2 separate regions of the Homo sapiens genome follow, and region 2 is linked to region 1. The links come from fine-mapping of genetic effects on gene expression. A gene starts in region 1. The other region holds a variant in brackets. All regions are shown on one strand. Distances are from middle to middle.

Region 1 (16,585 bases):
TATGGGACGCTATTTTTATGTAGTTTGTCACATAAATTTGACAAAGATCAATACAGCGATAGCATTGTAGTGGCACGAGTGTTAGAAACCCTTCTTTAACTTTGCAGTTTCAGAAATTAATCTTACAGATATATATTTATATAAATATGTAAATGTATATGTGTACATACACACACCGTTGACCCTTGAACAATACAGGTTTGAACTACATGGTTACACTTATCCACTTAGATGTGCATTTTCTTCTGCCTCTGCCACCCCTGAGACAGAAAGACCAACCCCTCCCCTTCCTTCTTCTGGTCAGCCTACTCATTGTGAAGATGACAAGGATGAAGACCTTGATAATGATCCACTTCCACTTAATGAAGAGTAAACATATTTTCTCTTTCTTAATAACATTTTCTTTTCTCTAGCTTCCCTTATTGTAAGAATCAGCATGTAATATATGTAACATACAAAATATATGTTAATCTACTGTTTATGTTATTAGTAAGTCTTCTGGTCAACAGTAGGCTATTCGTAGTTAAGTTTTGGGGAAGTCAAAAGTTATATGTGAATTTTCAACTGCACTGGAGGTTGGTGCCCCTAACTCTCACATTGTTCAAGGGTCAAATGTGTATGTGTTATGGTTTGAGTGTGTACCCCAAACAGCATGTGTTGGAAACTTAATCCCAAATGCAGCAGTGTTGGGAGGTGGGGCCTAATGGGAGGTATTTAGGTCACAAGGGCTCAACTTTCATGAATAGATAAATGCTGGTTATAAAAGGGCTTGAAGCTCTGAGCTCTCTGTCTCTGTTTCTGTCTCTCTCTCTGTCCTTTGATCATAGGATGACACAACAGGAAGGCTCTCACAAGATGCCAACCCCTCAATCTTGGACTTCTCAGCCTCCAGAAACATGAGCCAATAAATTTCTATTCATTATAAATTATCCAGTCTCAGGTATTCTGTTATGGCAGCCCAAAACAGACTACGACAGTGGTTATATCTAGATGATAAAGAAATATATATCTATATATAGATATAATTCTACATATTTCCATGTATAATCCTACAGATATAAATATGTAGATCTACATTGATATATATCCTATATGTCTAATTTCATGTAAGCTGAATTTTTCTTTGAAGGATTATTTAAAAGAGCAAACTACTGAAAACAACCTGAGTGGCCATTAGTATGTGACTGGTCAAACAAATTGTGGACTTCCATACAAGAAATATTATTCAGCCAAAAACGTATAAATAAGAGGTTGAGGATGCTCCTTATGAACTGACACAGAGTCATCTTCTGGAAGTATTATTAGGTGAAAAAAGTAAGGTGCATACAGAACAGTGTGTATAATACGCTGTCTTTTTTGTAAAAATAGAAACAAGAGGACTTTGAATATATAAATACACATTTGTTTCTACTTGCATAAAATATCTCTGGAAGGATCTGGAAGAAATAATTAATATCAGATTCTTTCGGGGAAGGGAAATGAGTGAATAGGTTGGGAAGGAGTTTTTTCCAGTATAACCTTGAGAACTTCTTTAATTCTGAACCCTGGAAATCTTATTTTAAATGAAAATAACATGATGTTTTAAATTGAATAATTAATTAGTAATTTAAATGTAATTAAAGTTTATGTAAATACTGTTTTGTTAATTGAAATATTAATAAAATAATTTAACATAAAACATTTTAATTAAAACAGCATAATATTTTAAATTGAAACAAAAACAGTGTGGATCATGAGATGTTTGCATTTGTTTAGGTTTAGAAGGTTCAGCTTTTGAAGATAGGAAGGAACTAACATAGGCTAGCTTTTTAGGTATAAAAAACCCAAAATGTTATCTGCAGGCATTTTAGCTCACCAAGTCTGGTGTGGGGATTAAATATTTTTAAAGTTTCCCATGTGATTCTCATGATGATGGTCCAGTGTGAGGATTCAGAGCTTTGGAAACCTCAGACCCCATATGGGACACTTACGATTTTGAAAATTAAATTGCATGACGTATTTTAAATTCTCAGTACATGCTAAATGCTTAATTAATATTGGATCCTTTTATCTCCTTTCAACCTGAAATAATAGCATTAAATTATGTTCTCACAGTCCTTTCCATTTTGCAAGGCTCTTTCCATTTATTTAGTCCTACTGAGCGCTAGGAATTTTGCTAGGCTATAGGAATAAACAGATTGAGTAAAGTACAGTCCCTGCCCTCTAGGAACTTACAGTCTTGCAGTCTAGTAGGGGTGGAAAAAAAAGAGATCTTTTTCCCTTCCATGTGACTTGGAGCAGAAATTCTCGAAGTATCATCCAAAGACTACTTGGTGGGGGTGGGAGGTGGTCCCTGAGATCCTTTCAGGGGATGTGATGGTTGATTTGGGGTGTCAGCTTGACTAAGGCACCCATATAGCAGTAAGACGTTTATTCTCAATGCTTCAGTAGGCACTGAGTCCATCCGTCTTCTGCTGAAAGGGAAGCCTGAGTGGTTTGGCATTTGATTAGAATGTTTGGGCTGCCCCAGGTGTGTCTGTGAAGGTGTTTCTGGAGGATATTGGGGTGTGAGTTGGAAGACTAGGTAGGGAAGATCCACCCTCACGGTGGGTGAGCACCATCCAGTTGGATGGAGGCCCAGCTGAAGCCAAGAGGTGGAGTAAGGGTCAATTCTTGCTCTCCCTTCTGCAGCTGGGATGCCCTTCTCCTGGCTTTGGATGTCAGAACTCCAGGTACTCCAGCTTTTGGGATTCTAGGACTTGAACCAACAGCTCCCTGAGCTCCCAGGCCATTGGCCTCAGACTGAGAGTTAGTTAGACCATCCATCAGCTTCCTTGGTTCTGAGGCCTTCAGACTTGGACTGAGCCACACTACTGGCCCTCCTGGTTCTGCAGCTTGCAGACCCCACAACTGAGTGAGCTAATTCCCCTAAGAAATTTGTTCTCAAATATCTCTATCAATATCTTTATCTATATATGTATCTATATGTATATCTTCATGGTTCTGTCTCTCTGGAGAACTCTGCCTAAAACGGGTCTGCATGATCTTCCCTTTTCCAACTCCTTATCTGTGTGAGATTAGATTTTCATTTGCTTCAACCAAAATAGCACATTGTGGCTGGGCGGGGCGGCTCACGCCTGTAATCCCAGCACTTTGGGAGACCGAGGTGGGCAGATCACTTGAGGTCAGGAGTTCAAAACCAGCCTGGCCAACATGGTGAAACCTTGTCTCTCCTAAATATACAAAAATTAGCCAGGCATGGTGGCATGCACCTATAGTCCCAGCTACTTGGGAGGCTACTTCGGATGCTGAGGCAAGATAATTGCTTGAACCCAGGAGGCAGATGTCATGGCGAGCCGAGACCGTGCCACTGTATTCCAGCCTGGGCGACAGAGCAAGACTACGTCTCCAAAATAAACAAACACATAAAGCTAAAAAAAAAAAAAATAGCACATTGTGACAGACTGAAGCAGAAATGAGAATTCAGCTGTTTTCTATTAAACTAGACATCAAAGAGATTTGCAAAAATGTAAAATAATACCTTTCTTACTAAACTTTTTTGGTTTGGAAACAGCCATTTCACTAAAACATTTTATTTATGTCAGTATGTATATTTATTATCCTTATTTTTCAAATATTTTTAATTTCAGTAGCTTTAGGGGTACAAGTGGTTTTTGGTGACATGGATGAATTGTGCAGTGGTGAAGTCTAGGATTTTAGTGCACCAGCATCTTTGTAATGTACATTGTACCCAAAAGGTAGTTTTCATCCCTCACCTCCCTGCCACCCTCCTTCCTTCTGAGTCTCTATTATCCTTATTTTTTTAATGCAGTAATAGATATTTGAATAATAGCTTTACTGAGATATAATTCACATACCATGCAATTCACCCATTTCAGTGGTTTGTAGGATACTCAGACTTGTACGACCATCACTACACCAGTTTTAGAGGCTTTAATCACCCCAAAATAAACCCTGAACCCCTTAGTCATTGTCTCTAAATTCCCCCACCCCTCACCCCCTGGAAATCACTAATGTCCATTGTGTCTCTATGGATTTGCCTATCCTGAATATTTCATATACGGTAAACGGAATCAGGTAATATGTGATCTTTTATCACTGGCATCTTTCACTGAGAATAATGTTTTCAAGGCTCACACACGATGTTGAATGCATCAGAACTTTGTTTCTTTTTATGGGTGAATAATATTCCATTGTATGCATAGACCACACTCTGTTTCTCCATTCATTAATGGATGCATGCTAGGATTACCTTCACTTGCTAGCTCTTAGGAATAGTGCTGCTGTGAACATTTGTGCATGGGTTTTTGTGTGGACTTACGTTTCATTTATCTTGGGCACATACCTAGAGCGGAATTGCTGAGTAACTCAGTGTTTAACATTTTGAGGAACAGCCAGACTGTTTTCCAAAGCAGCTGTATCATTTCACATTCCCACCAGCAGCATATGAGGGTTCTGATTTCTCCACGTTAGTTAGTGTGAAGTGATACCTCACTGTGGCTTTGGCTTCCATTTTTCTGATGGCTAATGAGGTTGAGCATCTTTTTATGTGCTTATTTGTAAATAGAAATAGTTTTTGTAAATATAAGTATTTGTATTTGTAAATATTTATAATATTTGTAAATATAAATATTTTTAAGTTAAAAATCCTTGAATTTACAATAAGGTAAATATCAATAAAGATAACCTTTGGCCGGGCACAGTGGCTCACACCTGTAATCCCAGCACTTTGGGAGGCCGAGGTGGGCGGATCACCTGAGGTCAGGAGTTCGAGACCAGCCTGACCAACATGGTGAAACCCCGTCTATACTGAAAATACAAAATTAGCCGGGCATGGTGGCGCGCAGCCTGTAGTCCCAGCTACTCGGGAGGCTGAGGCAGGAGAATCGCTTGAACCCAGGAGGCAGAGGTTGCAGTGAACCCAGATCGCACCACTACACTCCAGCCTGGGCGACAGAGCGAGGCTCGTCTCAAAAATAAATAAATAAATAAAAATAACCCTCACTGGAAAAAAAAAAAAAGAGCTCTTTAGATCCTTAATAATTTTTTTCGCGTGTTCAGTGGCCCTAAGACCATGAAGTTTGCAAACCACCAGCTGGTGTTAAACATAAGCCAAGGTGTTATTCTAATGGAGATCTGCCCGAAGTCTCTCTTCCCTGATAAATGCTCTTCATTTTCCGAATAGGCCTCTCTTCCCCAGACAAAGGAGTGAAGGAGGGCTGCTCTTTTAGTTGTGAGCATCACTGTAAGCAAACAATAGGTTTGCTTTTCTGAGTCATGTCCAGACCCCATGGCAGGTCTGTGCACCAGATCCAAGTGCCACCCTTCCCCAGAATTGCCAGAGAGGTTGCAAGATCGAAAAGAATTTTAGGAGAGGTAGCTATGAAAATACAGACTTGGGGGTTCCACGGTTCTTACTTTTTTCTTTAGTTGCAACTGGAGACAAAAGCATCAGCCAGCCAGTTCACAACGGGAGCAGGGAGCAGAGAGAGAAATTAGCATTAGACTCAGATCAGTGCAATAACCAAGAAGACCAGAGATAGAAGTGTCCCTGGAGATCAGCTGACCCACTCACTGCTATCAATAAAGCTACTCGGGCCCATCTATCAGCCCATCCATCCATCGATAAGTCCATTCGTTCATCATCCATCCAACCAACATTCACATGGTACATGCTCTGGGCATTGGCCCATGTTTGGTGTTGGAGACGCAGATAAATCAGATTCAGCCCCTGCTCTGTAGGTATTTGCAAGGCTGATTGGGAAGAGAAGTTCTGGTATAAGAGTACACTAGACACCCCAAACTCTGTTCTCACAGAACTTGCTATCTATGGATGTCCCAAACATCTTACAGGTGCTTCAAGCTTAGCCTGTTCAAAAAAGAATCTGTGGTCATCACACTCCTATCCATCAAAAAATAATCTGTTAATGCAATACTTTTTATTTATTCTTACTATTTTTTGTAGAGATGAGTCTCACTATGTTGCCCAGGCTGGTCTCAAACTCCTGGCCTCAAGTGATCCTCTTGCGTTGGCCTCCCGAAGTGCTGGGATTAAAGGCTTGAGCCACTGCACCCAACCAATACGATAAATATCCCTGAGTTCACGCTGATATAAATAAATACAGTACTTGAATAAATAAATGGAGAAGAAAAGTCAGCTTTTCCTTACAGAGAAAGGCCATTGAATATATGTAGATGAATAAGGGGAATAGAAAATCACCATTGGAGAAGCACTGTAGCAATCATTTCTGCAGCAAGATCCACAGATGGATGCTAAAATTAATGGGCAAAAATTGGAGGAGAACAGGGTATTCGCATAGCCTCAAAATTTCTCCCCCAGCGTATTTATTAATTACAAAGGGGGAAAATAGTAACTTAACAGTGGAGAAACCTGGCAGACACCACCTTAGCCGAGGGACTAAAGTTTACACCATGGGTAATAAGACACATCAACATCATGTGGTCCCTGATATAATTCCCGGGGAAGGGTGTGAGACCACTTCTGTGGTATTCCTGCCCTAAATGCATAGTCTCAATCCAATCATGAGAAAGCTTCAGACAAACCCAAATTGAGAGAAATTCTGCAAAACAACTGATCAGAGCTCTTCAAATGTTTCAGGGTCGTGAAAGACAAAGATTGAGGAGGTTCAATCACACATCCTAAGGACAAATCACAAGACCAAAGGAGATGGGATAACAAAATGCAACATGGTTGAGCAAGAGCTGGATTTTCTGAAACAAAACAAAACAAAACAAAACAAAAAACTTAATTGAAAATACAAGGTGGGATCCTGGATTGGATCCTCAAATAGAATAGTTTTTCTATTAGTAGAAACATTAGTAAAATTTGAATGAGGTCTGTAATTTCTTTAATAGTTTTGTTCTGGTGTTGGGTCTTGCTTTTAGTCATTGTGCTATGGTTAGGTAAGATGTTAACAGCTGAGATAACTGGGTGAAGAATATTCAGAAACTTAATTTTTGTGACTTTTCCTCAAGTCTAAAATAATTTCAAAATAAATTTTTTAAAAAACGTGTTCCTCTACAGAGTTTTTTTTTTTTTCTTTTTTTCTTTTTGAAACAGAGTCTTGCTCTGTTTCCCAGGCTGGAGTGCAATGGCAGGATCTCGGCTCACTGCAACCTCCACCTCCTGAGTTCAAGCGATTTTCCTGCCTCAGCTTCCTGAGTAGCTGGGATTACAGGCCCCTACTACCATGCCTGGATAATTTTTGTATTTTTAGTAGAGATGGGGTTTCGCCATGTTGGCCAGGCTGGTCTTGAGCTTCTGACCTCAAATAATCCAGCTGCCTTGGCTTCCCAAAGTGCTGGGATTACAGGTGTGAGCCACCGCGCCCGACCTCTACAGAGTTTTCTCATCTCAGTTAAGGGCAGCCTCAATTCCCCAGTTGCAAATACATGTATGTATAAAGAGAGCCTTTCTGCATGCTTCTCTATCCCCAACCACCAGCATCTGACCCATCACTCAATCCTGTGAGCTGTTTCCTCAGTGCCTCGTAACCTTCTACTTATCCCCATCTTCACCCTGATGACCAAAACGTTTTCTAACTTGTGTGTTTGCCCCTAATCTGATTCCCACCTAATCCATTCTTTCCTGAGGGCAAGACACATTGTTTAAACACACAGAAACACACATACATGCACACACACGCTCCTAAATATGACACTCCTTTGCTGAAAACCCTTTCACAGCTTCCTTTTCCCTGAGGATAACATCCAACATTTTTCCTGTGACTCACATGCCCCCGTCTGTTCTGTTTCCTGCCTCCTGTCTCTTCTTACTTGTAACAGTCTCACCACCATGCCCCTCCTTCTGCCTACCACGTTCCTGACACACCGGCCTCTCTCTGATGGAGGGACTCAGTGCCTTCTGCCCCAGGACCTTTGCATATTCAAGTCTCTGCCTGGAATAGTCTCTCCTAACTCTTCAGCTGGCCAGCTCCTATTCCTTACCTCAAATGTGACTTTTCTAGAGAGGCCATCTCCGAATCCCCACACTAGAATGTGTGTGTTTAGCATGAGAATTCCATGAAGACAGAACTATTTTCATCACTATATTCCCAGCATCAAGCCCGTGGAAAGAACCAGGAATAAACATTTGTGGATCGAATGAGGAAATGGGAACTCAGAGTTATGGCAAGACCCAAGTCCTCTTCCCAATATACTCTTTGGTGTCTTTACGTCGCAAAAGTCTGGAGTCTCACTAGAATTATCTAACTATGGTAATGTTGACTTCCAGGCACTGCACAACGTAAGCTCGTCAATGACATGCAACAGTCCCATGAACTGGGGATTCTTGTGAGCCCCGTTGGTCAGATGAGGACAGCAAGGTTTGCAGACGCAGTGTCTCCCCAAAGTCACAGAATCAGTGATAGAAACCAGGATGCAGACACAAGTGTATCTCCAAGGGCAGGGGCTAGCAACCTAGACTCATTCACCCCACTGTGTCCATCAAGGGAAATGTGAATGTCTAAATGGGAAGCAAGAAGAAGTCTGTTAGACTTCAGGAGCTTCTCTCTGAATCCAGCCCACAAGAGCCTCCCAAGTTGTAAGAAAATACATAGAGGACACAAGGCATGGCTGGAAGCATTACCTTCACGAGGAGTACAGGCTTCTGCCAATCCCAGGAAAAGCAGAATCAGCAGCGACATTTTCAGAAATGGCTCTGATCTGTGCATGATGGGGCTGGGATTTGGGCTGAATGTTCTCCTCCTAGGATAGACAGGACTCTCTGGTCACCCACCGTCTTCCCAGGCTCCAGGGACAAAACTAACTGCCCACACCTGCCCTCTAGCCTGCCTGGAGGCTGGCAGGTCTCCAGACCTGTGCCCACGCCACCAACTGCTGACCAAAGAACTGTATCTGCTTTTTCATCTTAAAGCAACATTTTAGAACAGTTTCATGCTGAGTGTGATGCTTGTCATCCTATGATCTGCTGGCCAAATCCTGCCCTCCTCCTGTTTTTGTAGGGCCTATGAGCTAAGAGTAATTGTTACCTTTTTTAATGGTTGGAGGGAAAAAACAAAAGAAAATATTTCATGACATGAAGATTATATAGAATGTGAATTTCAGTGTCCATGAATAAAGTGTTATTGGAACACAGCCATGCCATTTCACTATGTATTGTCTACAGCAGCTTTCAGGCTGCAAGACTGAGCTTTGTAGTTGTGACAGAGACCATCTGGGCCAAAAGGCCTAAAATATTTACTGTCCGGCCCTTTATAGAAAACGTTTGTGGACCCCTGTCCTAGACGTACTGTAAATTTCAGAAAAACAACAAAGCAAGCAAACAACATCTATCGTATTTCTACTCAGAAGTAAGTATTGTTTTTACATTTTTGTGTATATTCCTTTCCAAAGATGTCTACGTTTATACTTACCTCTAGCACTTACTAGCTATGTACCCTGAGCAAGTTACTTAACCACTCTGTGCTTCATTTTCTTGATCTATAAAGTTGGGATAATGATATTTCCAGGCTAATGTGATACTATCATATCACACCTGTATGATAGTAAATTTGTACTGTTGTAGCCATTAAGTTTGTAATAATTTTTCATAGCAGCCACAGGGAACTAACTGTTTCCACTGGTAATTCTTAGAAATTGCTTTGACAGTCAAGAACTTTAGCTGTCAGTGGGAATATGAACTTGACCCAGTATCCCTCTGGACTCCTGGAATAAAGGCAGAGTGTAGAGACCACTGGTCTATCTAAGCTCTGAAGGTTTCTATGGTACTTCCTTCAAGCCTGATAGAAACAGAGGGTTGTGTGTAGTGTCCTGGAAGGAAAGAGTTCCAGGTGTGGAGGGATGTCCACTCTTGCAGGGGACTCTCTCCTGCCGCCATCTCTGGTGCTATCTATGTTTCAATCCCTAGTACAAGCTGGACCATCTCATGTACATTAGGGGATACCTCAGCGATCCTTCAGACTAGGCTGGAGGAGAGAGTTCTTGTTGGCCATTTGCCATATTTCAGAGCTCCCCTCCTTTGTGAGCACATGGTCCTGGCAACTCATCACCGGGAAAACGTGATACTACAGGATTTGTTATAATGAGCAGAAGAAACAAGGCGTAAAACATGTGGAAGGCTTTTCACATCCGGTGCTATGCGGAAGTAAAGACCACCCAATGAAAACAAGCAAAGGCTATTAATTCAGAGCTTGCTGTAATAAGGGAGGCCACTGACACCATTTGTGTTTGGCACAGACTCAAAGGCAGGCAGGGTAGTGGGAAAGCTTATAGTGAAAGAAAGGGAAGGCTTCAAGAGTGCCTGGTTGGAGGCCGTTGGCATAAGGAAGCTGGCAGTGGTTAATTAGAGGCCATTGTGATTGGTTGGGGGAGCATATTTGGATTTCTCTGATTAGTCCTACGTTTCGATTTTCCATCCTTCCTTAGCAGCCTCATTACCAGCACAGCTGTTTCTTTGCTTTATCAAATATAATCACAGTCCCTAACTCATAACACTAGGGTTTAAATGCAACAAATGCCTGGGATGTAGAACATCATTAATATTCTTTAGCATTATCTGCTCTGCCAGACTGTGATCTGGGGACAGAGATGAGTCAGATACTGGCCTTGCTCATGAGGAACTCATGCTTTAGGGAAGATCAGGATTTCTCACCATTGGCACAGCTGACATTTAGGACTAGATCGTTTTTGTGGTGGGGGCTGTCTTCCGCTTTGTGGGATATTTAGCAACATCTCTGGTCCCTATCAATTACACAGTAGCACCTGCCCCACCCACCCCACACCAACCACCACCGCCACCATGTTTGGGGAGCCACAACTAGGAAGTGATGAGCTTTTAGTGCTTATTACTCTATTTTTATTATAACTTATTTATGTTCAAGTTTATACAATTTAGTTTTGAGTATTGGGCTATGTTAGGCAAGCAGCTAAAATGAGGAATTTTACCTCAATTTAAAAATGTTTTAAATGTAGAAAACTGAAAACGTTAACAATTGACCCTCATAAGCTGGCTCCAGTACACGTATGTAATATTATTTTGTGTGTTTTTACATTTATTCTAAATGGTGTTTCACTGAATCTTTCTTGCACAACTTGCTAGCTATGTATGTATTTATTTATTTATTTATTGAGACGGGGTCTCACCCTGTCGCCCAGGCTGGATTGCAATGGCACGATTTCAACTCACTGCAAGCCTCCGCCTCCTGGGTTCAAACGATTCTCCTGCCTCAGCCTCCTGAGTAGCTGGGATTACAGGCGTGCGCCACCACACCTGGCTAATTTTTGTATTTTTAGTAGAGACAGGGTTTCACCATGTTGGCCAGGCTGGTCTCGAACTCCTGACCTCGTGATCCACCCACCTCGGCCTCCCATAGTGCTGGGATCTTTTTTTTTTTTTTCACCCAGCGTGATGTTTGTGAGATCCACTCATGTCTATGTGGAGCAGGGAAGTGGTGCTGGACCTGGAGACGGCAAAAAACCTGGTTGTTATAGTCACAGACAGCCAATCAGTTAGAATCACAGACATTGAGTCAATCCAGTGTGGATGCCAATCCCTGCCCCACCACACTACGGCTGGCCTGAGTTTCTTCTTGCTACCATAACAAATTACCATAAAATTTGTGACTTAAGACGACATAGATTTATTATCATACAGTTCTGGAATTGAGAAGTCTGAAATGGGTTGATAGAGTGAAAAGCCTTGGTAAAGCTACATTCCTTCTGCCGGCTCTAGGAGGAATTTGTTTCCTTGCCTTCTGCAGCTTCTACAGGCTGCCCACATTCCTGACTCCTGGTCGGCCTCTTTCATCTTCCTAACCAACAGCATGGCGTCTTCAAATCTCTCTCCAACCCTCTCCCATTTTCAGGCCAGCGATGGCCGGTCAAGTCTTTCTCACCGTACATTGCTCTGATTCTCTGTTTTCATCATTCCGTCTCCCTCTGTTACCCATTTCCCTCCCTCTTTCACTTACAAGATCCTTTGTGATTACATTGGACCTACCCCAGTAATCCAGGATAATCTCCCCACAAGGTCAGCTGATTAACAGTCTTATTTTTATCACATCTGAGAGTAACACACTCCCAGGTTCCAGGAGTCAGATGTGGGTATCTTCAGGGACAATTATTCTGCCTGCCTCACAGATGCATAAACTTGCTCAATTGACTATATCCCTGAGCCTCGGTTTCCTCCTATTAATGATAGCAACAATTATTATCATTAATTATTATATTATTATGCCATATAATTGTGAATGTTTTAAAGTATATTGAGGGGATGTGGAGAAATTGGAGCTCTTATACATTGCTGGTGGAAATGTAAATTGGTATAGCCCCTGTAGAAGATAGTTTGGCAGTTTCTCAAAAAGTTAAATATAGGGCTACCGTATAACCCTGAAAGTCCACTCCTAGGTATGTACCCGAAAGCACGGAAAACAGGTAATTACACAAATATTCACACACGAATGTTCACAGCGACACTATTCACTAGAGTCAAAATATGGAAATGATTCGAATGTCCATCAATAGATTAATGGGTAAAGTGTGGTATAGCCATATAATAGGATATTATTCAACTGTAAAAAGAAATCAAGTACTGATACATGCTAGAACATGGGTGAACCTTGAAAATATTATGCAAAGTAAAAGCAGCCAGACACAAAAGACTACCTAGTGTATGATTCCATTGATACGTAATATCCAGAACAAGTAAATCCTTAGAGACAGAAAGTAGATAGTGGTTGTCGGGGACTAGGAATGGGGAGGGAAAGAGGAATGGCTGCTTAGTGAGATGGGGTGAGGGGTAAGGAAAGTGTTTTAAAACTAGATGTGGGTGACGGTTGAACAACATCGAGAATGCACTAAAGGCCACTGAATTGTACACTTAAAATGGTTAATTTTATATCATATGAATTTTACCTCAATTAAAAAAGTTTTAAATGTAGAAAAATGTGTTAAAAGCTCTAAAAATAGCAATTAAAAATCCCATGTTACCAAAACAAAACAAAGAAAACAGTACAAGCATAGGGACTGTGCATATTAAAAGTAACTAAATTTAAAAAGTATTAAAAGTAACTAAATTTAAAAATTAAACCAGCAGCAGCAGCAGCAGCATCTGAGGCTTCTACAGGGAAACAAGTGGAAATAGTTCAACCCCTCTGTACAGTTCCTGGGGCAGTCCCAGAGCTTGAGCAGGTGGGAGGGATGAGCATTCTGTCCCTGCCGCAGGGGCCATTACACCCACAGGGGCAGCGCCCACACAAGGGGTCTCGGCTGCAGCTGGCATGACTGGCTCAGCCACACCAATGCTTCTGTGTCCTGGGCAGCCTGGCTTCCCAACCCCCAAGGAGTCCCAAGCCACTGACTAGGTCCTAGAATAGACAACCCATGTCCTGGGCTCTGGCTGGCTCTCCAGTCAGTTCCTTCACATCTATCCTAGATAGAGGAGCCCTTGGAGTCTTCTGTCCCCCACTAAACAGATAAGGGAGCAATGGGTCAGAAGTTTCAGGGATTTTTCCCAGAAGGGACCTGAAAAGTGTCATCGGATTTAGCCAGGCTCTGAAATCATAGAGGTGCGGGATCAAACCTCAGCTCCCTCCACCTCCTGGCTGTGTGCACTAGGACAAGGATTTCTTTTCTTTGGACCTCAGTTTCTCAGGGAGTAAAAATGGAGGTGTCATAGCAACAGTCGATACTTTTTCTAGCACTGACTACATCCCAGATGCTCTTCTAAGAGCCTTTGCCTATAATAACTCCTACAACACTATGAGATGGGAACTGTTATTAGCGTCATTTTATAGATGAAAAAAGTGAGATCTAAAAGCATAAGGTCCACTCAGAATCACACCACTAGTAATTGGCAGGACTGGGATTCGAAGCTAAGTATATGAATCTGCAGTGAATGCTCTAAACCAGCCCTGTCCAGTAGAACTTTCTGCAGTGATAGGAATGTCCTGTATCCGTGCTACCCAGAATGGTGGCCACTAGCCACGTGCGGCTGCTGAGCACTTGAGGTGACGCTAATGCAACTAAGGAAATGAAGTTTTCATTTTATTTCATTATGAAGCATGTAAATCTAAATAGCTACGTGGTAAATCTAAATAGCTACATATATTGGACAGTGCTGCTCTAAATCATGATACTAAGCGCCTCTCAGCCTTAATAGACTATATACCTAACAGGGTTGCTATGACAGTTCTGACAGAGCCATATGTGTAAAAGCACCCTCTGTGAACCAAGCAGTCTCGGTGTTGGGGATGCACTTTCTCTAACCCTGTGGAGTTTATAGTCTGGTGTAGGAAGACAAACAACAATATTGACAAACACATATATAATTTCATGTACTGGTCATTGCTGCAAAGAAACTGAAATAGGGCCATGTGTTAGAGACCGATGGGGTTGAGATGCTGCCGTAGCTAGAGTTGTCAGGAGAGACCTCACTGAGATGGTCACATTTGAGTTTAGATCCTAATGAAGATCTGGGGTAAGAGTAGCTTAGACAGAGGGAACAGCTTGTGCAAAGACCCCGAGGCAGAAAAAAGCAGAAGGAATTTGACACGCAGAAAGAAGATCATTGTGGATGGAGCAGGGTAAGCTCATGGGAATGTGGAGGGAGGAGAGGTTAGAGTGGTAGGCAGGGGCCAGATTGTCAACAAACCTGAGTGGGCTCCGCCGTGAGAATGATAGTAAGCACAAACCAGGAACATTCCTCTTTGTCTGCTTTCCCTGGGCCCTCTTACACCCACTTGGTTCTCTATTAAATATGGGCATCTCCGGCCAGGCACCGTGGCTCACGCCTGTAATCCCAGCACTTTGGGAGGCCAAGGCAGGTGGATCACGAGGTCAGGAGATCGAGACCATCCTGGGTAACATGGTGAAACCCCGTCTCTACTAAAATTACAAAAAATTAGCCGGGCATGGTGGCAGGTGCCTGTAGTCCTAGCTACTCGGGAGGCTGAGGCAGAAGAATTGCTTGAACCAGGCACCGAGATCGCGCCACTGCTCTCCAGCCTCAGTGACAGAGTGAGACTCCATCTCAAAAAAAAAAAAAAAAAAAAAAGTGGGGGCATCTCCCAAGCAGAAAGCAAAGCCTAAGCCTACTCACTTCTTTGGGGAGAGAGGAAGAAAGTCTTGGACAGTAATTGAGCATCCTCTTTGGGCACCTGCCCCAACAACTTCACACACATTATCATCTCATTTAACTGAGGTTGGATCTGCAAAGGCAGCTTGGCTTGGCAGAAAGAGCGGGAGCTTTGGAATGAGGGCCTAGATCTCACCGTGGGCTCTATCACTTGGTGCTATTTTTAGCAAGCATGCAGTAATAATCATAATACTCTCAGCAGTTAAGCTTAATTGGGTGATTATGATGTGCCAGACGTGGTTCTAAGCACTTCATATCTATTAGCTCATAATTTTAAGAGCTGGGTAGTATTATAATTTCTCTTTGCAAATGAGATAACTTTGCCCAAAGTCAACAAAGCCAATAATTGGAAGAGGTAGGATTTGAATCTATACAGGTATGATTGACATTTGTGAACTTGTTTAGCTGCTAAGTCTCTATACCCTGATTTCCTTTGGAAGAATTACCTCTGCTCCACTGTATGTGGTCCTGGTGGGATAGTTAATGCACGTGCCCATTTTCTCATAATGAAAAGCAAGCAGGGTCCCTCAAAGCTCCTTGCACCAGATCCTTATTTTTACACTAAAGCCAACCAACCTTTGTCCTAAGCCAGGCTAATCAGACTGCTTACCTGGCACTTTAAATCTCGAATTGAGTAAAGCAAGAGTGGAAGAAGCAGATTTAATGCTTTTCAGGTGAGAGTGTTGAGTGGCTCATGATACAGAAATCTCTTGGTTTCCCAGGCTTCACTCTTTCCCAAACCCACTCTCCAGCCTTCACTTTAATCCTTTGAACTCCACCCCTTTGCCAGTTCCTTCCAGTGATTTCTCTTTTAAGCTAGCCAAAGTCCGTTTCTGCCACTGGAACCCAAAAAACCTGCTTGATTCAAGAAGTTCAGCTCTGTTTGTGTTCTAAGGCAACCTCTGGCTGCTGTCCTTCTGTACATAGTCTTCCTTCCATTGGATCTCTCAAAGAGAAAGCTCACTTCCTCAGTTTACTTTCCACCAGCTTTAAGTTTCAAGCCTTACTGCTTGCTTACAGCTTTAACCACTTACATAGAGTATAGGTGCATACTAGATGCTCAATTAATATTTGTTGAAATGGTATTCAAGGTGAAAGATTGAGAAGTGAAGATGGTTTGGAATTGTGTTGTTGATGCCTTTATCATGGGAGTGCCCTGTGCTAGGATGGATCTGAGAATGGTTTTTTTGTAATTCTGAAATAAGCCCATGTGTCTCCCCTACTCCAAATCCTTCCATGGCTCAACATTACATACAGGATAAGCATTTATTTAATTTATTTATTTATTTTTGAGATGGAGTCTCACTCTGTCACCCGGGCTGGAGTGCAGTGGTGTGATCTCAGCTCACTGCAACCTCCGCCTCCCAGGTTCAAGCAGTTCTCCTGCCTCAGCCTCCCGAGTAGCTGGGATTACAGGCGCCTGCCACCACACCTGGCTAATTTTTGTATTTGTAGTAGATACGGGGTTTC
Region 2 (16,585 bases), 28 kb before region 1:
CGCAGGGCCAACTGCAGCCTGCATCCCTTTTAATAAAGTTTCTTTTTGTAATTGAGGTAAAATGCAAACATAATGCATAACATAAAATTCACCATTTTAACCATTTTGAAAGGGCACAATTTAGTGGCCTTCATTACATTCGCCATGTTGTGCAATTGTCACTTCTAAGAGTGGAACATTTTCATCAACCCAAAAAAGAAATCCATTAAAAGCAGTCACTCCCCTTGTTCCTTCCTCCCCTCAGCCCCTGACAACTAGTAATTGGCCTTCTGTCTCTTTGAATTTGCCAGATCTGTCTGTTTCATATACATGGCATCATCTACTGTGTGATCTTTTGTGTCTGCTTCTTTCACTCAGCACAGTGTTTTCAAGGTTCAGCCGTGTTGTTGCACGTGCCAGGACCCCATTCCTCTTTTGGGGGCTGAATAATAATCCATTGTATGAATGCACTACGTTTTGTTTATCCTTTCATCAGTTGTTGGGTACAGTCACAGCCATCAGTGTATTCTCTACGATTGCTTTGACTAGAGTAGTTGCAACAGACCATATGACCTGAAAAGCCAACACGTAATATTTGGCCCTTCACAGAGAAAGTTTGCCAACCTCTTGCCTAATGGGTTGAAAGCACACCTTTATATGAAAATAACTATCTGGTTTGACCGGTGCTTTAATGTATGGTTGAAGAGAGCCTGAGAAACCGTTCAACACCATTCATTTCCTTCAGCATCCTCCCCAGTGGAATCTGAAGGATTGCTGTTGGTTCCTGAACCAAAGCATTGCTTAGGTGAATCTTGAGGACTGAGGAGGACTTTTCTAGGTAGACAGAGATCAAGGAATCAATGTGTGCAATGGCATAATGGAGCGGGAAAAAAAATGTGATGTTTTGGGGGGAATCAGAAATGATTTAATATGGGGGGGCGTGGTGGCTCATGCCTGTAATCCCAGCACTTTGGGAGGCCGAGGTGGGTGGGTCACCTGAGGTCAGGAGTTCGAGACCAGCCTGGACAACATGGTGAAACTTCATCTCTACTAAAAATACAAAAATTAGCCAGGTGTGGTGGTGCATGCCTGTAATCCCAGCTACTTGGGAGTCTGAGGCAGGAGAATCGTTTGAACCTGGGAGGCAGAGGTTGCAGTGAGCTGAGATTGGGCCACTGTTCTCCAGCCTGGGTGACAGAGTGAGCCTCCATCTCAAAAAAAAAAGACTGGGAGCCACCGCTCACGCCTGTAATCCCAGCACTTTGGGAGGCCGAGGCGGGCGGATCACAAGGTCAAGAGATCGAGACCATCCTGGCCAACATGGTGAAACCCCGTCTCTACTAAAAGTACAAAACTTAGCTGGGCGTGGTGGCACTCGCCTGTAGTCCCAGCTACTTGGGAGGCTGAGGCAGGAGAATTGCTTGAACCCGGGAGGCGGAGGTTGCAGTGAGCCAAGATTGCGCCACTGCGCTCCAGCCTGGCGACAGAGCGAGACCCTGTCTCAAAAAAAAAGGTTTAATATGGACAGGGGATGGAATGTGGGTGGGGGGATCAAGAGAAGTGGAGAAAAGTTTAGAGAAGCAGGAGGAGCTTGGAGCCTGAGAACCCTTGGGTACCATGCCAGAGACCTGAACTTGATCAATGGGGCAGAGGCTTCCTGCCAGGTTCCCTGAAAACTTGGGATCTTTTAGGAATTCCACAAAGGTTTGCTTTGATTTTCATTTCAAAAATTAAACTATTTTTTAAAATAGGTGTGTACCCAAAATATAGCACATGGACTGAAATTTTTATTCACTGGAGAGCCACACCAACCTGTTGCATGTTTTACATACAGACCTTGGGGAAAAAATTGTATTACCTGAAGGGCATGTACACTTCACAAGGCAAACTATTAGGCATTTGCAGTGACTTATCTCTGTGGGCTCAGATTTTTCTCCGTATGAACAATTAAAAGGAAACACTGCAAGATACGGGGTAAAAGAGAGTAACGTAAGACAGCAGAGGCCTTCTGTACCCTGTGCTTGCAAATCTCATCACCTCACTTCATAATAAGTAAATGTCACACAGTTAACCTTAGGAAAAGTACCTCTGGTAATGAAAAGCAACTTAGAATTTTTTATATATTGGGATTCCATGTAAGATTTCAGTAGAAAAGTGTTTTGGATTTTCTTTCTTTTAAAGTTTGAAAGACACTCATCATAGTTGGTGAGTTTCCACTGGTGGATTTAAGCAGGACTGCAGCAGGGGGTGGGGGTATATCGTATGATCGAGTTGACATTTTTTAATGTAAAAAGGGCACTGGGGATGCCAGGGAGAGGATGAAAGGCAGGCGACGTGGGAGAGGCCAGGGAGGAGCCTCTTTGTAGCTATCAAGGGAAGAGAAATCTCCCATCTGTCCTTAGTACTTTCTCTGGCGACGTGGGAGAGGCCAGGGAGGAGCCTCTTTGTAGCTATCAAGGGAAGAGAAATCTCCCATCTGTCCTTAGTACTTTCTCTGGCAACAGGGGAGAGGCCGGGGGGGACCCTCTTTGCAGATACCGAGGGAAGAGAAGTCTCCCATCTGTCCTTAGTACTTTCTCTGGCGACGTGGGAGAGGCCAGGGAGGAGCCTCTTTGTAGCTATCAAGGGAAGAGAAGTCTCCCATCTGTCCTTAGTACTTTCTCTGGCGACGTGGGAGAGGCCAGGGAGGAGCCTCTTTGTAGCTATCAAGGGAAGAGAAATCTCCCATCTGTCCTTAGTACTTTCTCTGGCGACGTGGGAGAAGCCAGGGAGGAGCCTCTTTGTAGCTATCAAGGGAAGAGAAATCTCCCATCTGTCCTTAGTACTTTCTCTGGCAACAGGGGAGAGGCCGGGGGGGACCCTCTTTGCAGATACCGAGGGAAGAGAAGTCTCCCATCTGTCCTTAGTACTTTCTCTGGCGACGTGGGAGAGGCCAGGGAGGAGCCTCTTTGTAGCTATCAAGGGAAGAGAAATCTCCCATCTGTCCTTAGTACTTTCTCTGGCGACGTGGGAGAAGCCAGGGAGGAGCCTCTTTGTAGCTATCAAGGGAAGAGAAATCTCCCATCTGTCCTTAGTACTTTCTCTGGCAACAGGGGAGAGGCCGGGGGGGACCCTCTTTGCAGATACCGAGGGAAGAGAAGTCTCCCATCTGTCCTTAGTACTTTCTCTGGCGACGTGGGAGAGGCCAGGGAGGAGCCTCTTTGTAGCTATCAAGGGAAGAGAAATCTCCCATCTGTCCTTAGTACTTTCTCTGGCGATGCGGGAGAGGCCAGGGGGACCCTCTTTGCAGCTATCGAGGGAAGAGAAACCTCCCATCTGTCTTTCGTACTTTCTCTCCGTACCCTGGACCCTAGCCTTGACCAGGCTACCGTCATCTCGTGGAAACTGAGTAGCCTCTTAACTGGCCTCTACACTTCATGTCACTGGGACGTGTCTCTTTCTCACTGACAGCCTTTCCGTGGCTTCCCATGGCTCTGAAGGTTGGGTCTAAAATGCTTGCTCTAATCTTCCAGGTCTGAGGTGGTCTGCTGAGCATGTCACCCACACTCCTCCCATAGTGCCCTCCCACTCCCTCCCCCTTCTCCTGCCCCCATTTTTCTTTCTGACTCCAGGCACATCTAGGCCACTTTCCACCCCAGGGCCTTCGTACAAGCCAGTTCCTTCACCTGGAGGCTCTTTCACTTGTTTTCTGTGTATCTGACAACCCCTCATTCTACAGGCCTTTGATTCATTGTCACTTTCCTAAAGAGGCTTTCCTTCATCACCCAACTATCCAGGGCAAGGTTCTTTAGTTCTCTTTTTCATCATATCCTCAGCTTTTCCTCTAGCTCTAAGTATCACCTGTAATCATCTAATTGTTTTCTTGTGAGCTCAGGAATCTTGTCTGCCCCGTTCACTACTGCATCCAGGATGCATCAGTGGGTCGTTATAAACACAGAATTATCATATGACCTAGCAATTCCACTCCTAGTTTGTACCCCAAAAGATTTTAAAACAGATATTCTAACATAACTTGTTCATAGCACCACGACTCACAACAGTCAAAAGGTGGGAGCAACCCAGTGCACTTTACCTGATGATGGATAAACAAAGTGTGCTATGTCCATGCCGTGGAGTGTTATCCAGCAGAAACGAATACAGTCCTGATACAAGGTATACCATGATGAACCTTGGAAATATTATGCCAAATGAATAAACCCAGATGCAAAGGGCCACGTAGTGTATGATTCCATGTGTATGAAATGACCAGAGTAGGTGAGTTCTCAGAGACAGAGAGTAGACTAGTGGTTGCCAGGAACAGGGGGAAGAGACGATGTCTTGGTACAGAGTTCCCTTTTAGGATGATGAGAAGATTCTGGAAACAGATTAGTGGTGATGGCCACACAATATTTTGAGTGTACTGAATGTCACTAATGGTTAATTTTATGTCGTGTGTGTTGGGCCACAAGTCCTAAGACTTGTGAAAAAATTATAGAGTGAATTTATAAAGGAGTTCCTCCTGCCCGGCACATCCCTGTCATTTACAATGTGTTTCCTTGCCCCTGTCAGGCAGTGGCTTGCAAGTAAGGGTGACGAACTTGGGACTTCTCATGGAATTCTGGGTTTCTATGATTGCAGCTTCCAAATCCACCTGTGTTCCTTACCTCAAATGCCAGGCAGTTGGGATGAACCTCCCCTAACCCCACCCCAGCGGTGGGAAAAGCCCACTTCCCTGCCATAGCATACCTGATGTCCAGTTCCAAGTTACAGTAGTGGCAGTAACACTTGGGAGGAAAAAGTGAACTGGGAACAGAGAAAGAAACAGTTGGGGTGAGGCGAGTGAATTCCTTCCTTACCTCCCTTTCTCCCCATCCCCCTCTCGCTTCTTTCCCGTCCTCCCCCTCTGCTCTTTCCCTCTGGTTGTAACATCTTCTGGTCTTGCTTCTCTATTCAGCCCGCCTCTCACCACTCCCACCTTCTTCCCCATCTTCCAGCCAGTTCTCCTCATCCCCATAAGCAGCACAATCCCCTAAGCTGGGGTTTCTCAGCCTCAGGTTCCTGACGTTTTGACCTGGGTTATTTTTGTCGTGGCGTGTTGTCCTGGGCCGTATGGCAGGTTGAGTGGCCTCCCTGGCCTCTGCCCACTGGATGCCAGTCGAGCTCCCTCCTCCAGCTGTCACAACCAATCCTGTGGTCCAGACACTGCTGAGTGTCTCCTGGGTGGCAACGTCACCCCCGTTTCAGAACCACTAGCATAACTGAAGTCACTGTCTCAGGCTCATCTCCCTGGTCTCTCCATTTTCCTTATTCCTCACACCCAGCGCATAAGCAGTTCCTTTAGAACTGCTGCACGGCTCTCATCTCCATGAGCACCGCCAGGTCCCCTGCGCTGGCTGGTCGGGCCTCCTCTCAGTGTGTCTCCTCCTCTCAGTCTGTCTGCTCCCACTCTCGCCCTGATTCCGATCCACTCTCCACAGGCAGCATTGAGAAGGATCCTTTGATAACTCAGAAGGGATCTTGCTGGCGGCTGTCCACTAGCTTAGAACACAAGCTTCCTTCTCGTGGTCTATGAGAACCTTACATGACCTGGACCCCCCTGCCCCTCTCAGGTCACATAGATGTTCCTTTGGTTCCTCGAAGGTACTCAGTGTGTTCCTGCCTCAGGGTCTGCTGTGCATGCCTGCTTTGCTTGCAGTGGTTGCCCCCAAGCTGCTCTGAAGGCAAGATCCTTCCACTGTCTCATCTCTTATGTCCAGACGTTACCTGCCCGGGGAAGGCTGCCCGTGGCCATGGCTGCTCACTCTGTGATATCACCCTGATTTAGTTCATGTTTTTTGGAGCTGGCTGCTTGTTTCTCTGCAGTCCTCCTGCTATCCCAAACATGGGAGCCCTGGGGACTCAAGGACCTTATGGGTTCCGTTCTTCTCTGAGTCCCCAGCATCTAGGATGGGTCCTCTACACACGTGAATATTTGAAGACTGACTGAATCAATGAATGAAGGATGACTTGTCCTTCCTTCCATCCCTCCTTCCCTTCCGTCTTGCCTCCCTCCCTCCCTCCCTCCTTTCCTTCCTTTCCTTCTTTTTTTTTCTATTTACTTTAATTTTTTGAGACAGAGTCTCACTCTGTCACCCAGGCTGGTGTGATCTTGGCTCACTGCAACCTCTGCTTCCCAGGTTCAAGTGATTCTCCTGCCTCAGCCTCCCGAGCAGCTGGGATTACAGGCATGCGCCACCATGCCCGGCTATTTTTTGTATTTTTAGTAGAGACGGGGTTTCACCATGTTGACCAGGCTGGTCTTGAACTCCTGACCTCGTGATCCAGCCGCCTCAGCCTCCCACAGTGCTGCGATGACAAGCGTGAGCCACCGTGCCCGGCCTGGCTTGTAGTTTCTTGCACCCTGCCTTATTTTCACCTCTCTGAGTCTCGCACATGGTGTTTCTCTGGAATGCTTCCCCTGCTTCCCCTCCTCAATTGGCTAATTCCATTCTGTCCTTAACCCACA[G/C]CAGAGGTGTCACCTCCTGCAGAAAGGCTTCCATGAGCCCACACTTCCCCTAGGCTGAGATAAGCGCCACTGCCTCCTGCACTAGCACCTGCTCATGAAGTGCTACCACTCGGTGATCTGGTTCTCTCTGTGGATGTCTGCCTCCCTTACAGAATTAGGACCTTCTTGAAGGTAGCTCAACCATCAGAGTCCCCAGCAACCAGCAACAGGCTTGGTCCTTATGAACGTCCCTTAGAAAGAACAAGAGACAGCGGCAGAGAGAGAGGCAGAATGAGTGACAGTATTTCAAAGGAGCCCCTGGGGCTGTGTTAGTGCAGAAGGGAGAAGTTTTATCCCAGTCTAGAGGTGGGAGGGAGGGAAGAAGGAAAGAGAAGGAAGGAGAGAGAAGGAGGGAAGGAGGAAGGAAAGAACAGGGAGGGGGGGAAGAAAAGGAAGGGAGGAGGAGGGAGGGAGGAAGAGGGAGAGGAAGAAGAGGGAGAGGAAGAAAAGGGGGAGGAAGAAAAGGAAGGGGGGAGGGAGGGAGGAACGGGGAGGAAGAAGAGGGAGGGAGGGAGGAAGGAAAGAAGGGCAGAGAGGGAAGAAGGATGGGAAGGAAGAAGGGAGGGAGGAAGCAGACGGAGAGAGGAAGAAAGGAAGGAAGGGAGAAAGGGAGGGATGAAGGGAGGAGGAAAGAATAGGGAGGGAGGAGAGAGAAGGAGGAAGTAAGGGAGGGAAGAAAAAAGGAAGAGGAAAGGGAAGGAGGAAGGGGAGGGAGGGAGGGAGAAAAGAGGGAAGAAGGAGAGAGGAAGGAAGAATGAAATGAGAGATGGAGGCGGGTGGGAGAGTGGGAAGAAGAGAGTGTTTTACAGAAGGGCTCTCCCACCACTTCCTGCTTGGCACCTCTGAGGCACCCTCCTTCGCTTCCTCTGTGCCCCCACTTCCCTCCTCTTTCCTTCCTCTCCTCACACTCCTCCCCTCCGTGCTGCCTTCTTCTTACCCAGTCCCCTTTGTTGTAGGATACGAAGAGGTAGGTCATCACCATGTAGGCGCATTTCAGGAAGTTCCACGTGTTCTTCCTCTTGGGGAGTGGTTTCCTGGATGGGGTGGTGCCTGAGAAGGGTTTAACTGGAGAGAACCGTGGAGATGATTGATGCTGATGGCCTTCCCTTCCTGCCTTAGAGCTTCCTGTCACTGCTGTCTCTCCATTCTGATCTCCAAACTCACATCTCTGCCTGCCTCCTGAATTGAAATTTTGGTCCACACCCACCATCACTGCCAGCTTCCCCCTTCTTGGTTACCACCATACTCCAGACAAACAGTCAGGAATGCCTTTTGGCTCTCCCACCTCACATCCAAGACATCACCAAATCTGACCCTGTCTTGCCCAGATTTCTCACCAAACTGTCAGAGGGGTTTGAACCAGAGTGACTCCGTCTTGAATAGGGGCTGGGTAAAATGAGGCTGAGCCCTACTGGGCTACATTCCCAGTAGGTTAAGGCATTCTTAGTCACAGGATGACAATAGGAGGTTGGCACAAGATACAAGTCGCAAAGACCCTGCTGATAAAACAGGTTGCGGTAAAGAAGCTGCCAAAACCCACCGAAACCAAGATAGCGATTCAAGTGACCTCTGGTGGTCCTCACTGCTCATTATATACTAATTATAATGCATTAGCAGGCTAAGAGACACGCCCACCAGTACCATGACAGTTCACAGATGGCATGGCAACTTCAGGAAGTTCCCCTACTGGCCTAAAAAGGGGAGGCACCCTCAGCTCCAGGAAATCTCCACTCCTTCCCTGGAAAACTCATAAATAATCCACCCCTTGTTTATCATATATTCAGGAAATAACTATAAGGAGACTCAGTCCAGCAGTCCTTGCTGCTGCTCTGCCTATGGAGTAGCCAGTCTTTTATTCCTTTACTTTCTTAATAAACTTGCTTTCACTTTATGGACTTGCCTCAAATTCTTTCTTGCACGAGATTCAAGAACCCTCTCTGGGGGTCTTGATCGGGACCCCTTTCTGGTAACAAAACCACCACCTCTCCCCCATCCCCAGGCTTCAGGCTCTGCTCTTGATGGCTGCCTCTGCCCACTACGCCATCCTTTCTCTTTCTCATCCATCTCCCACATGAGTGCCAGCAGGATCTTTCTAGCACCAGATCCGACCGTGTCGCTTTCTTATGTCAAACCTCATGAGGTGCAAGAGTGTTTCTTTCGCCTGTGTAACATTTTTCCCTTGTCTTTTTATTTTAAAAGTATTACATTCAGAAAATCTCATTTTTTTTTTACACGTAAACCTGTCTGTCTAAACAGGTTTCCAATCAAAAAATAAAACATTACCAGTGTACAGGCAAATGCAAATCGAAAACGAAAAAAAATGAATTCTCCCTGTTGAAAATTCAGGAAGCGATTACTCCTTGTCCCCTTTGCTTAGAGCATTTACTTTAGAAAATTTTGCCATTGCAAGTCTCTCTCTCTTCAACGTTTACACTAATCTTTTTCAAAGCTAAGTAAGCCTGCGGCCAGCATTATGACCCAGGAGGGTGTTTTCAAGGACCTCGAAACATCTTCCCCAGCTTCTTGTTGGGAGGGGATGGAGCCTAACTTTGGTGGGCACCTCACCCCAAGTAGCAAATCTACCTCCTGTGATAAAGATACTAGAAGTTTATTTTTCCCTTGGATTAAGCCAATTAACAAACACAGTTGGCTATCCCAATAACCAAGTGAATTTACGGTGAACCATGTACAGCAAATAGAGCTGTCAAGTTCTTTAACTTGAGGACTAGCTGTTGTTTATCTTGAGAGCAGGTATGTAATAAGTTGTATCTGCTTGGCTATATAAAAGGGTGAAATTTTTTTTTTCTGTCTTTGCAGTCTCTTCGCATATCATGTTCTGGTTTAATGCTTACCCATTAATAAAACTATTTTCTTTCTCTTCTACCTGGGTGGAGAAGAGCTCTGGGTTTGGAGGATATTTTGTTTTTAATTATATTTCACCAACACCAGCATATCCCAAGCCTCTCAGATATACCCTCCCAATCAAAGGTACACAATCACATCTATAAAAAATGAGGCTCATCTTTCTTTCTTCACAATCCTTTTGCCTATTATTACCTTTCTCTTGCCTGGCTAGGATTTGCACTGGATAGAACGTTCAGTCCAATGTGAAATGCAAGTGGTGATAGCAAGAACGTCTCATCTGTGATCTCAGAGGGAACATGTTCTACACCCTCAGCCCTCTGTGTCGCTGGACTCTGCATCTGAGGACCCAGCCAAAAACTGGTCAAAAATACTTTTTAAAATCCCAATAAAAATAGCAATACAACAATAAAAACAATACAAAAATATAACAGTACAATAACTAAGGAGCATTTACATTGTATTATAAGTAATCTAGAGATGATTTAAAGTGTGCAGGAGGCTGTTCATAGGTTAAATGCAAGCATTATGCTATTTATATCACGGACTTGAACATCAAGGAATTTTGCTATCTGCGGGGAGGTCCTGGACCCAACCCCTGAGGATACTGAGGGACAACTGTGTTTTACCTTAAACAGCTTGTTCTTTGTAAGTTTTTGGTGGCTATTCCTTATTATATTAAGCTGTTCTCTCTACTCCTAGCTAGCTGAGATTTTTTTTTTTTTTAATCATGAACAAGGCTGGGCATGGTGGCTTATGTCTGTAATTCCAGCACTTTGGGAATCTGAGGCGGGAGGCTCACTTGGGCCCAGGAATTTGAGACCAGCCTGGGCAACATAGGGAGACCCAAACTCTACAAAAAATTTAATAAATTAGCTGGGTGTGGTGTCTCGTGCCTGTGGTCCCAGCTACTCAGAGGCTGTAGAGGGGAGGATCACTTGAGCCTAGGAGTTTAGGGCTGTGGTGAGCCGTGATCATACCACTGCACTCCAGCCTGGGCAACAAAGCTAGACCGTGTCTCAAAAAAAAAATAATGTAAGCTGTAAAATCTTACCATATTCTTTTTCTGTATCTACTGAAATGATAATGTGCTTGTTTTCTTTTATGTTAATAAGGTGGGAATACCATATATTTGTTTTTACCTATTAAACCATTGTCGCATTGCTGGAATAAAGTGAATTTAGTCATGATTGTTTAACATGTATTGCCAAATTGCACTTGCTAATATTTAGTCTAGGATTTTCCATCTATATTTATGAGGAAGATTGGCCTGAAATTTTCCTTTGTCGTATTTGTCAGATCTTTTATCAAGGTTATTCTGTCCTAAAACCGAGTTGGGAAATGACTGTTTTTAATTTTCTGGAAGATTTCCTGTAAGATCAATGTGATTTCTTCCTTTTAATTCACTATTAAAGCTAACTTGATCCTGAAAGACTTTTTTGTGTGTGGTAAGGCTATTTAATTACAGGTGGCATTTCTTTAATAGATAGAGGATTATTCAGATTTTTTTTTTTTTTTTGAGATGGAGTCTTGCTCTGTTGCCAGTCTGGAGTACAGTGGCACGATCTCAGCTCACTGCAGCTTCCGCCTCCCAGGTTCAAGTGATTCTCCTGCCTCAGCCTCCCGAGTAGCTGGGACTACAGGCACCCGCCACCACGCCTGGCTAATTTTTTTGTATTTTTAGTAGAGACGGGGTTTCACCAGACGGGGTTTCATCATGTTGGGTGGGATGGTCTCAATCTCCTGACCTTGTGATCCGCCTGCCTCGGCCTCCCAGAATGCTGGGATTACAGATGTGAGCCACCGCGCCCAGCCCAGATTTTTTATATCATTTCATTTGTTTTTGGTAATTTGTGTTTTTTTGGGATTTTGTCCGTTTTATCTAAACTTTCAATTTTATTGGCATAAAGTTTCTCCAATGATCACCTTATTGTTATTTTGTTACCTGCAAGATCTGCTATGATACTCTCTTCTTCCTTCCAAATATTGGCAGTTTGTTTCTCCTCTATTTTTTCTTGTCAGTAATGCTAGAGGATTAAATTTGTATTACGCTTTTCAAAAGAACCAACCATTAGTGTTGTTCTGGCTTTTTTTTTTTTTTTTGAGACTTGCTCAGTTACCCAGGCCGGATGCGGTGGCACAATCACGGCTCACTGCAGCCTCCACCTCCCCAGCTCAAATAATCCTCCTGCCTCAGCCTCCCGGGTAGCTGGGACCACAGGTGCTGCCACCATGCCCGGCTCTGCCTACTTTAAAACGCTCATCTCCACCATCTGGATCACTTGGTGGCTTGCTGCTATTTTCTGGTTTTCCGGCCCTCAGTCCTATCACCCAGGACTTAGCTTGGTAATTTCCATGTCGGGAAGAGAGGACTCACAGTCCACAGAAGCAGCAGCTGGGATAGAAATGTCTCCCACTCACATCTCAGTATGTTGGGTCTCCTCGATGCCCATGAGCAGTGTGAAAGGGGCAGTGGCTTGCAGACTTTGGATGCCCTTCAGGAAGGCAGCCTCTCAGGTACCAAAGCCCCTGCAGGGCCTTGATTACCTGAAATCTTCTCTTCTAAGGCTTTATCATAGCCCAGACAGAAGGGACACACTGTCTTATAGATGAGGAATGGTACGACCCCAAGCACTTACCTTCCTCCTTGCAGCCACTTGTTTCTTCTAAAAATGAAGAGATGGAGGAGAAAAAGAAGCAGGAAGAGAAGGAGGAAGAGGAAAGGAAGAAAGGGAGGGAGAGAGGGAGGGAGGAAGAGGAAGAGGAAAGGAAGAAAGGGAGGGAGAGAGGGAGGGAGGAAGAGGAAGAGGAGGAGAAAAGAAAGGAAAAGAAAAGAAACCATCAGGTGAATTATGAAGTGGGTGGAGACCAAACTCTAAATAGTGCTTCCAGGTGCCTCGAATGAGGAGAGAAGAGAATAAAGTTAGTCTCCCTGTGTCCCTGGATCCCAGGGACTCAGCTGCCTCAGGGCCTTTGCATATACTGTTCTCTCTTCCTGGAATGCCTTTCCCCCAGTTATCTCTGGCTCACCTGCCCTTCTTCTTCAAGCCTTTGCTCACATGTCATGTTCCCTGATCGCCCTTTAAAAACTTTTTTTTTTTGAGACAGAGTTTTGCTCTTGTCACCCAGGCTGGAGTGCAATGGCATGATCTCGGCTCACTGCAACCACTGCTTCCCAGGTTCAAGTGATTTTCCTGCCTCAACCTCCCGAGTAGCTAGGATTACAGGTGCACACCACCATGCCCAGCTAATTTTTTCTATGTTTACAAAATTTGTTTCAAAATAATTGTTTGTATTTTAGTAGAGACGGAGTTTCACCATGTTGGCCAGGCTGGTCTCGAACTTCTGACCTCAGGTGATCCACCCACGTCGGCCTCCCAAAGTGCTGGGATTACAGGCATGAGCCACCATGCCCAGCCAAAAAACTTAAGTTTCCCGCACTGCGTTTCCATCCCCATTACTCTATTGTCTCCATAGGACATAATAGCCTTCAGCAGACCTATAACTACTGCTCTTTGTTTTTTCTCCTCTGATTGGAATACAAGTTTCACTTGGTCACAGACTTCTGTCTGTTTTATCCTCTGCTGCATCTCTAACACCTAGAATAACATTTGGTACAGGAGAGCTAACATCAGTTAATATCTGTTGGACAAATAAAAACATGTTAAACATTTATGATGCAGATGATGATACGGATAAAGAGTGTAGGGTCTGATGATATTTAAGGGACCCCCCACCATAGAAAAAACCAGTACCTGTATATTTCTGTGCACAGGAGTGAACACGAAATAGCAGTCACCAGACTTACCATGCAGTACTTGGAGGCTCAGCAAGCCTAAGGAGGACAGGGGCATACAACGCGAGTCAGAAGGGACAGCATGATAAACACTTCCAGACCAGCAGGTCCAGCAGGCTCGCCCCAAGCCACTCCTCCTCCGAGAAGCCCTGCTGGATTGCCCGCATCGTCCTCTTGCACACTGTCCCCACTGCCACCTCCCCCCTGTGCCACACAGATTCCTGTTGTAGTTTAACTGCCTGTTACTTTTCCATCTCCCCACCTCCACTAGACTGTGAGTTGACGTGAGGGTGTGAGCTTGTCAGATCCATCTTTCAGCTTTCCACCACCCTGCCCAGCCCTAAAAAGCATTCCTCCCAAACCAGCTTCCTACAGAGTCCCGGGGCAGGCATGGAGTGAGGTGTCACCTAGGATCTCTGATGATGTCCATCCAGAAGGAGATGGGGTCCAGGAAGCAAGACAGGTCAGGGGAGCAGACAGGCCCAGAGTATGGAGTTCCCAGGAGCCGTGGAAGAGGAGGCCACATGTAGGGAAAAATCACAACATCAGAAGACAGAGCGATGGGAGCACAGGAGAGCGGAGCCCTGGGTGGGTCGTGCTGAGTAGTCAGGACATGCCACAGTGAACAGCGCAGAACAGTCAGAGGCTGCTTCGTGTGGGTTGGAGGGACGTGCAGTGACTTGCAGGATTTGCACCGCAGCAAGGTTAGGCTGGGAAGGAAGCCGCCACGCCATTCCCATCTCTTCTGTTTGTTTTTGTTTTGTTTTGTTTTTTGTTTTTTAGACGGAGTCTTGCTCTGTTGCCCAGACTGGGGTGCAGTGGGACGATCTCGGCTCACTGCAACTTCTGCCTCCCGGGTTCAAGCGATTCTCCTGCCTCAGCCTCCTGAGTAGCTGGGAGCACAGGCACCCGCAACCACACCCGGCTAATTTTTGTATTTTTAGTAGAAACGGAGGTTTCACCACGTTGGCCAGGCTGGTCTAGAACTCCTGACCTGAGGTGATCCGCCCGCATCAGCCTCCCAAAGTGCTGGGATTACAGGTGTGAGCTACCATGCCAGGCCTTTTTTCCATGTATTTTGTGTCACTCTAATGTAGGCACCTACATACTCATCCAGGGGTGGCACATTCCATCCCACCACCCGTTGTTGTTTTCTGAACTTTGTTTTTTAATAACAACTTGACTGGTATATTAATATAATTCACATAACTTATGACTCACCCATCAAGTGTACAAGACAGTAGTTTTTAGGACATTCACAAAGCTGTGCATCCATCACCACAAACAATTTTAGAACGTTTTCATCACCTGAAAAAGAAACCGTGTACCCGTTGGCCATTGCCTCCAAACCTGGTGCCCCTGAGCAGTCACTCCCCATCTCTCTGGGCTCACCCCCCTCTCCCGCGGTCCTAGGCAACCACTAAGCTGCTTTCCCTATCTGTGGACTTGCCTGCTGTGGACATGTCGTAGAGACAGAGTCATACCCTATGTGCTTTTGTGTCTGGCTTCTTTGACTGAGCACTGTGTTTTCAAGGCGCGTTTATGTTGTGTCCTGTGTCAGCACTTTCTTTGTGGCTGAATAACATTCCATTGTATGAATAGACACATTTTATTTACCCATTCATCGGTGGGTGGACATCCTGACACTTGCTTTTGTAGATGAAGTTTTATTGGAACAGAGCCATGCCCATTCACAATGTGTTGTCTACTGCTTTTGTAAATAAAGTTTTATTGGCACACAGCCATGCCCATTCACTGTGTGTTGTCTGTGGCTGCTTTCAGGCCACAAAGGCAGCATTGAGTAGTGAGTGGCAGCAGAGACCACCTGGCCCTGAAAGCCTAAGATGTTTACTATTTAGCGCTTTACAGAAAACAGAAAAAAAAATGCTGATTGATCCCTGCCTTATGTCACTGAATTCTCAAACAAGCAAAAAATATTATCTCCATTAATCAGGTAGGAAAATAGAATCTAAGGGAGTTTGGGTAAGTTACGCCCACATTATAGATGATGGGAGTAGAGTTCCCACCCAGGCCTCTTTGCCTTAAAACTCAGGCTGTCTCCACCGAACCACTTGCATCCTGGGTTAATGTGAGGGTCCGGGAGAAAGAGCCCACGTGAATCGCCCAGTACAGAGCTTGGCACCTGGTGGGCCCTTAGGCAGGTGTTTGGGATTTTCCTGCTGGGTTTGGCTTTTGCTCGTTACTGGAGCAGGGCTGGGTCTGCTTGGCACCTGGTGGGCCCTTAGGCAGGTGTTTGGGATTTTCCTGCTGGGTCTGCTTTCAGTTTGCAAAGTGCTGTCAGTGCAGCATGAGGACGGAGGCTGGAGAAGGGCCTGGGAAAAGGAGCGAAAGGAGCAAGGCAGAGGGGCCTCCTGCAGACATGGGAGTGTTCAGAACAAAGGTAAATGAGGTGGTCCTCACAGACCCTTGCTGAGCTCTTATCCCGTGCCAGACATTTTATTCAGCGGGGGGTTTCTCAACCTCCAGACGAGTGACATTTGGGGCTGGATAGTTTTTTTGTTGTGGGGGTGGGGTGTCCTGTGCATTGTAGGATGTGTAGCAACATCTCGAGACTCCCCCCATTAGATGCCGTTAGCCTCCCCTACCACCTCCCTGAGTCCTCACAACCAAAAATATCTCTAGGCATTGCCAGGTGTCCCCTGAGGGGCGAAATCTCCCCAATTGGGAATCATCCTGCCAAGTGCATGATCCTGTTTACTCCTCACAACCATATGAGGCTGGAACTATTATGTGCATTGTACCGACCAGGGGCCTGAGCCCTTCAGGAGGCGAGGGTCCGAAGCCCACGGAACTAGAAAGTGGTGCAGTCAGGACCGGCGCCCACAGTGCACACTCTCTGCCAGTTCCTCTTTCCCTTTCTTAGCATAATTTTATCTTCCTTACAATATATACAACATACAATTATAATGATAATACTTCCAGTGTAGGGATGAGGCAGGGACCTCGTTAGTCTGAGCCGCTTTGAACACTTTTGAGTTTGCATTGTTTAATAGCACCGTTTGGGATCCAGACTGGGCTTAAGTTATTCTCTGCACCTGACTGGCTGTGTGACCATGAGCAAGCGACTCTCCCTCTCTTACCACAGTGTTTTCAGTTGTAAAACAAGGACGATGACTTGGGGACTGTCATGAGTCAAGCACTTAACAACCATGCCTGGTACCCAGAACGTGCTCTTGAGCTGCAGGATACCATTTTTCAATTTGTTTTTTCAGATCAGGATGTCTTGGGTTTCACTGAGGCTCAAGCTGCATAGAAGTGGGGTTTGGAGGTGGGTGTGGGGCATGGACAGGATGGTGTCTCAGAACTGGGGTTTAGATGGCTTTGAATGTGGACCAAAAGAAGAGTGTGTCCTCAGCCGAAAGGTAGAATCAACCCAAAATTCAATCAGTGGATGATTGGATTAA

The links. PIP is the estimated chance that this variant, and not a neighbour inherited with it, causes the effect.
Region 2: its variant is fine-mapped to the expression of EDDM13 in whole blood (TOPMed, PIP 0.97).

Annotation. Positions count from the first base shown.
Region 1 is chr19:56,264,943-56,281,527 of GRCh38, reverse strand. EDDM13 (epididymal protein 13) reads right to left here and starts at 8,780. Exons shown (of 15, transcript NM_001354658.2): 1 at 8,609-8,780; 2 at 5,419-5,436. The coding sequence starts at 8,693. All of the region lies in intron 2 of ZSCAN5A (zinc finger and SCAN domain containing 5A), which reads left to right. LOC124900420 reads right to left here and starts at 8,780. Exons shown (of 5, transcript XM_047439799.1): 1 at 1-8,780.
Region 2 is chr19:56,292,950-56,309,534 of GRCh38, reverse strand. The region is part of intron 2 of ZSCAN5A (zinc finger and SCAN domain containing 5A); the gene reads left to right. It overlaps EDDM13 (epididymal protein 13), which reads right to left. Exons shown (of 15, transcript NM_001354658.2): 10 at 13,568-13,576; 11 at 13,173-13,199; 12 at 12,004-12,030; 13 at 7,440-7,567; 14 at 4,705-4,742. It overlaps LOC124900420, which reads right to left. Exons shown (of 5, transcript XM_047439799.1): 5 at 1-16,585. The coding sequence starts at 3,294. The coding sequence ends at 2,176. Among named protein-coding and RNA genes, the nearest start is that of ZSCAN5A-AS1, 13 kb to the left of the region's middle. The variant G/C (reference allele first, on the strand shown) is at 6,464.